Linked DNA regions of Homo sapiens. The protein of the gene in region 2 purifies or fractionates together with the protein of the main gene of each other region. This does not show direct contact. Each region holds a gene or a part of one and is shown on either strand. Other genes may lie near its edges.

The links. Proteins that work in one complex are often made in the same cells at the same time.
Region 1: the proteins of SLU7 (region 2) and AGGF1 purify together in Homo sapiens (affinity purification with mass spectrometry; one large-scale study listed by BioGRID and IntAct). This does not show direct contact.

The regions. Positions count from the first base shown.
Region 1 is NC_000005.10:77,043,904-77,047,403, forward strand, and holds part of AGGF1 (angiogenic factor with G patch and FHA domains 1), read left to right. Parts: intron 1-2,443; coding exon 2,444-2,774; intron 2,775-3,500. UniProt on the Homo sapiens protein: Promotes angiogenesis and the proliferation of endothelial cells. Able to bind to endothelial cells and promote cell proliferation, suggesting that it may act in an autocrine fashion.
Region 2 is NC_000005.10:160,412,582-160,416,081, reverse strand, and holds part of SLU7 (pre-mRNA-splicing factor SLU7), read left to right. Parts: intron 1-771; coding exon of another isoform or gene 772-787; coding exon 788-957; intron 958-1,609; coding exon 1,610-1,763; intron 1,764-2,102; coding exon 2,103-2,183; intron 2,184-2,461; coding exon 2,462-2,626; intron 2,627-3,500. UniProt on the Homo sapiens protein: Required for pre-mRNA splicing as component of the spliceosome. Participates in the second catalytic step of pre-mRNA splicing, when the free hydroxyl group of exon I attacks the 3'-splice site to generate spliced mRNA and the excised lariat intron.

The sequences.
Region 1 (3,500 bases), about 83 Mb from region 2:
GTCTCGGCCGGGCAGAGGCGCTCCTCACATCCCAGATGGGGCGGCGGGGCAGAGGCGCTCCCCACATCTCAGACAATGGGCGGCCGGGCAGAGACGCTCCTCACTTCCTAGATGTGATGGCGGCTGGGAAGAGACGCTCCTCACTTCCTAGATGGGATGGCGGCCGGGCGGAGACGCTCCTCACTTTCCAGACTGGGCAGCCAGGCAGAGGGGCTCCTCACATCCCAGACGATGGGCGGCCAGGCAGAGACACTCCTCACTTCCCAGACAGGGTGGCGGCCGGGCAGAGGCTGCAATCTCGGCACTTTGGGAGGCCAGGGCAGGCGGCTGGGAGGTGTAGGTTGTAGTGAGCCGAGATCACGCCACTGCACTCCAGCCTGGGCACCATTGAGCACTCGACAAGAACTTTTAAGAAAAATCCTGTTGGAATTTTGAGAATTTCCTGAGGATTCTAAAAGGTACCTGTGAGGCCAAGAGAGTATCTTCATCTGTTTTCTTTATTTTTAAAGATATTTTTGAGCCTCACTTTTTGTAGGTGAAGGTTATGTGGAAGGAAGACAGTAGGGGAGATAGGAGTAAATAATTTGAAATATACATATGTGCCTCAGTGCCCATAAATAAGCCCTCCTTTCTTTTCACTTAATGACTATCTAATGTTCTGTACTGGCAAATAGCTTTCCCTGCATATGTTGTTCAGTAAGTAATAAATATACAAGATTGGAAACTGCTTTTTTAAGAGTATATACAGATAGGGAACTTTTTTGCTATAATTTTATAATGTAAAAGCTCCTCATGGTTTTTCAGCTCCTTGCCCTTGTTCTTGTTCTGGGTGAATTTGTATTGCTAGAAGTGTGTATAATTTATCACACTGTGAATGTTTAGCCAGTCTCCAAGCTGAACTTACGCTGTTATCAAAGATAGGTATGTGAGGTGGATGGATCATGAGGTCAAGAGATCGAGACCAGTCTGGCCAACATGGTGAAACCCCATCTCTACTAAAAATAAAAAAATTACCTGGGTATGGTGGTGCGCATGCCTGTAGTCCCAGCTACTCGGGAGGCTGAGGCAGTAGAATCTCTTGAACCTGGGAGGTGGAGGTTGGAGCGAGCCGAGATCGCGCCACTGCACTCCAGCCTGGGCGACAGAGCGAGACTCCGTCTCAAAAAAAAAAAAAAAGAAAGAAAGGTGTGTGAGATGCTCTCATATTTTATAAAATAACAGAAGAGCATATGAATTCGCCTCATGTTGCTCTGAGGTAGAAAGAAAAGTGAGAGTGCGTTAGAAACCAAGGGAAAAAAATGGAAAATAATTATTTACTTTTTCTAAGGCTGAAATGATAGATTTGACCATTGTATAACACGGTGACTATTGTTAATAACAATGTGTTGTATTATTGCAAACTGCTGAGAGCAAATTTTAAGTTTCTTACCACAGAAAAATAAGTATTTGAGGTAATGTACATGTTAATTAGCTCAATTTAACCACTGTACATTGTGTACGTATTTCAAAACTTCATGTTGTACATGATAAAAATACATCATTTTTGTTAATTAAAAAATGTTCATTTATTATAAGGCATATCAACTATAAATGTACAATAAATAATAAAAGACTTATGCCAGGCAAGTTAAAATTTTGGAATAAGATAGTCACAGTTAATTTGTACTTTAAACTTTTATGTATTATCAAGCTGAATCTGAAGTACTAAATTTTAGCAAAACTACAATTTTGCTACATATTGAGTACATTTGGATCTTTAAATTCATGTCATAAGTAAAGCTAATTCTGTATTTTATTTGTGTTGACTAGCTAATTGATTACCAGTTTAAAAAGAAAATTTAGAATAGGTATTCTTTAGGCCTGCACTATCCAGTAAGGTAGCCAGCAGCTCCATGTGGCTGTTGAGCACTTGAAGTTTTGCTAATCCAAACTCAAATGTGCTGTTAAGTGTAAAATACACTCTGGATGTTGCAGACTATGTAAACTATCTCATTAATAATTTTACTTTTTAAATGTGGCTACTAGAAAATGTAAAAGTACAAATATGGTTTGTGTTACATTTTTATTGGACACCATTGGTCTAGGCTATCCCATAGTCCAGGCAGTATGTGATGAGGGCCTGAACTAGGAATGTTAAGACATTGAGAATAGAGAGACAGATTTGGATATATTTTGAGAAAAGTCTGTAGCACTTCGTAATTTTATATATGGTTAAGGGGATCTCAGAGATAACTATAGGATTTTTAATTTGGATAATAAGAAGATGGTAATATCATTAACCAAGAAAGGAAATGTGAGAAGGAGAGGGGGAACAGATTGTAACCATTGTTATTTTACTGACACATATCTTCACGAATTCGTTGAAACTTGATGTAATGTTATAAGATAGTGATGTTTAAGAGTATTCTCCCCTGTTCCCTCGTATCTACCCACCCTTCTCCAGGATTTGAACTCAGAGGATCAAAAAGCCTTCAGTGTTGAACATACAAGCTGCAATGAGGAAGAAAATTTCGCAAATATGAAAAAGAAGGCCAAAATAGGCATTCATCACAAAAATAGTCCCCCCAAAGTCACTGTTCCAACTAGTGGAAATACTATAGAGTCTCCTCTTCATGAAAACATCTCTAATTCAACATCATTTAAAGATGAGAAAATCATGGAGACTGATAGTGAACCAGAGGAAGGTGAAATTACAGACTCTCAGACTGAGGATAGTTATGACGAAGCCATTACCAGTGAAGGCAATGTAACTGCAGAAGATAGTGAGGATGAAGGTGAGTAAATAATCATTATTTAAGTAAATAGCCCAGTCTGGTAACTATAAAAGAGCAAAACCATTAAAAATGTTAGTGAGTTGTAGTATATCTGCCAGAAAGTAAACATTATTTTAATGATGTTATTGAAAATGTTGTGGGTTGCCACTTGGTTATTCTTAGAGAGTAGGATGTGAATAAATGACTAATACTTAGACCTTCAGAAGGTTTCATTGTATTGAATGGCATAGTCAGTAGAATACAAAGCCAGGTTACCTGGATTCTAATCTTAAAATATAGATTAAGGCTGTTTTAGTGGGTTAGATATTTGTAGTCTACTTTTGTAACTGAGAGAGAAAAACAAGTTGTCTTTAAAAAGTATACATTATGAATTCAGCTACATGGATATTATGGTAAATCTAATTTTTTTTTACTTGAATATATAAAGACATACTTTTAAAACACAGGATTTCATATTACAGTTGGCCTTCTGTATCCATGGGTTCTACTTTAGTGGATTCAAGCAACCTCAGATCAAAAATATTCAGGGAAAAAAATGGATAGCTACATCTGTACTGAACATGTACACACTTTTTTTCTTGTTATTGTCCCCTAAATATGGTGTACCTATTTATATAGCATTTACATTGTATTAGGTGTAAGTAATCTAGAGATGATTTAAGTTATACAGAAGGATGCACATAAGTTATATGCAAATACGATACAATTTATATAAGGACTTGAACA
Region 2 (3,500 bases):
TCACTACAAAAAATACGAAAAAATTAGCCGGGCATGGTGGCGGGCACCTGTAATCGAGCTACTCGGGAGACTGAGGCAGGAGAATCGCTTGAACCTGGGAGGCGGAGGTTGCAGTGAGCTGAGATCATGCCACTGCACTCCAGCCTGGGCAACAGAGCGAGACTCTGTCTCTAAAAAAAAAAGAAAAAGAAAAACCAAGAGAATGTAGTGTCAGGGAAGTCAAGACATAATATATAAAAAGGGAAGGAACAGAGCTGAAAAATGTCCATTGGATTTAGCACAATGGTCCTTGATGACTTAATGATGTAACTCTTTTCTTTAGAATGGTAGGGAATGGAGGGCTAAGTTAGAGTGAGTGAGGATGAAAATAGAAGGTGAGGAAATGGAGGCAGTGAATATAGATAACTCTTGAGATATTCATTCTTGAAGGGGTACAGAGATAGGACCCTCTTTTCTCTCATTAAGAGTTACTGTGTTAGAAAAGTTTGAGACATACACAGAAAGAGGGATTAAGGATGGATATGAGAAAAGAGTCCTGTGAAATTTTAAATACACGTGTGTGTCTCTCTCCATTTGTAAATTGGAGTTGAGAGAGAAACAGTGCTAACAGTATGTAGAGACCTTGAGGAGGGGGAAGAGACCCTTCCTTACACATAATATAGGAGAAAAAAAAACATATGAAACAGTATATATTATTAGGATGTATTTTTGGTAGTTTGAGTGAATTCATGAAGGCCTACTTTTTACTGTAAGTTTCACTTCTTTTCCTAGAGGAGGCCAGATAACCATGTCAGCCACAGTTGTAGATGCAGTTAATGCTGCACCCCTATCGGGGTCCAAAGAAATGAGTTTGGAAGAACCAAAGAAGATGACCAGAGAGGACTGGAGAAAGAAGAAGGAGCTAGAAGAACAGCGAAAATTGGGCAATGCTCCTGCAGAAGTTGATGAAGAAGGAAAGTAAGTACTTAATTTTTTGTATGATCCATTCATTCAGAATTCAAATTCATGTCTACTTAGTTTATTAATTTTTCATCCTTTGAGAGGAACCTCTCTTCATTTATGTCATTTTTGTTTTTTATTTTATCAAACTCATATGCATATGGTTTAATAATGAAATTATGTTGAAGGGCTTATAATGAATAGCAACAGTCCTTTTTTACCGTTCCCACCCCTGGCCTGCTCTACAGAAGTGACTGCTATGAAATCTTTCTATTTTGAGTTTTTCTGGTTGTTACCGTCACATCTCTAGATAATAATACCTACACAATTATTTTAATTAATTGACTATAGACATTATTTGAACCAAAACTTCTTGTGATAGAAGATTTAGATTACTAACACACATCTCTATTTTCCTTCCTCTCTTGTCCCCCTTCAGTTATATCACTATTCTTAGTTTCTTAGTTGGAAATATTTTCACTCTAAAATAAATTACTTCTTTATTTTTAATTATTCTTTATTATAGTATAGAGATAGCAACCTTGTTCTCTTCCCCCTACCACTGCAATATTTCTGTTCTTAGATTTTGTATAAGCTACCTTTGTAATTGTAATACTGATTATTTTCCAATTTTATCCTTAAATTTTTTTTTTTTTTACTTTAATTACAGAGACATCAACCCCCATATTCCTCAGTATATTTCTTCAGTGCCATGGTATATTGATCCTTCAAAAAGACCTACTTTAAAACACCAGAGACCACAACCAGAAAAACAAAAGCAGTTCAGCTCATCTGGAGAATGGTACAAGAGGGGTGTAAAAGAGGTATGTAGGCAACCTGTATACATCTTCATGGATATGGAGAGTTTAAGAACTTAATGTAAGAATTTTTAATGCAATACTATTTAAAGTAGAAACAGATAATAAAACCCTTTATCTGGTATTGAAATTCACAGTGCATTACTATTTTATCTTTGTGTTTCTTATATAAATTTTACACTCCTGAACTCTTTAAAGTTTCACATTTATAAATGTGTGGAGACTCTAACTTATTTTCCTTTTAACAAAGAAATCATTTCCCTAGACAAAATAGTAATGAGAGTCAAAGTTATTTCTAACTTACGTGGTTAAGACATTTTTGTTTTTCTTTATATATATTTATAGAATTCCATAATTACTAAGTACCGCAAAGGAGCATGTGAAAATTGTGGGGCCATGACACACAAAAAGAAAGACTGCTTTGAGGTAAGTTCACCTTTGAAAATTTTGAAAACCGTTGTCAGAGTCTTTCTTTTTTCTTTGTCAGAGAGCTAACTTCTCTTTTTCTGAAATCACCTATATTTAGGTACAAGTTAAATAAAAATTAGTTTCAGTGGAATTGGTTCAACACCAACAAAATTTTCTACTGTAAGACTAACTGTAAATTGAATAGATCGTAAAGTGCCCACTCTGTAAAAGTTGTATGAAGTTTTCCTTTGGGCCATAAAAACTTAGGAAAAGATTAAATCTTACTCTGTTTTTAGAGACCTAGGCGAGTTGGAGCCAAATTTACAGGTACTAATATAGCTCCAGATGAACATGTCCAGCCTCAACTGATGTTTGACTATGATGGGAAGAGGGATCGGTGGAATGGCTACAATCCAGAAGAACACATGAAAATTGTTGAAGAGTATGCCAAAGTTGATTTGGTGAGCAAAATTCCCTGCTTTCCTGGGGTTTTTAAAGAATCGTCCTTTTGCTGTATCTCTAGCAGCTCTACTTTTCAAATCTTGAAGCACTTTAAAAATGGTAGCATTTTTATAATAGTAGTACTACTGTATAGGCTACCTTTATAATTGTAATATTGAGTAAAGGAAATAGTGTGCTAGCCATACTTGCCAGCAGTTTCTTCTTATTTGATTCTTATATTGGTCCTTTACTCCCTGACTTAGGTAGCAAAAGATATTGGAAGCATGAAGACAGATTAGTGTCCAAAGCTTTTGGTTTTGTGAGGTTAGAAATGTATGGCCCCAAGCTATAGCTTGCCCATGAACCTATTTTATAGTTGCCTCCCATAGCATTTGGGAGTAGTAGAAAGGGAATGGATAATTTGTTTCAGAAAATTTTATTTTATTTTAACCCAACTTCAGTTTTTACTGTTATGATTTGACCTATTCACCCTTATTCCTTTGAAGTCATAGTCACACTGCCTTTTTTTTTTAATTAGAGGTATCATTTTAAAATTATAAGATTTCATATAAAAATCTGGATTTCATCTTTTCTTGAATATTGTAATATATGGTAACCCCACGCCTGCCTGGTAAGAGTCAGTCATCTAGAGTTCTGTGGCAACTGCTTGTTTTTGTCAGGGCTTGCTCCCTGCAATTTACTACTGATGCCATTTGGCTCAGTTTACATTAATGCCTGGTTCAAACACTGTGTAACTCCTGCTCTTTATAGAGTAATAGGTCTAGGGCTACAAGGAATCCCAAAGAGATAGGTTTGTTCAGTGACCTTTTCTGAAATAAATTAATTTAAAGTTATTCATTTTAAATATATAAAAATTTAGGTGGTGACTTGAAT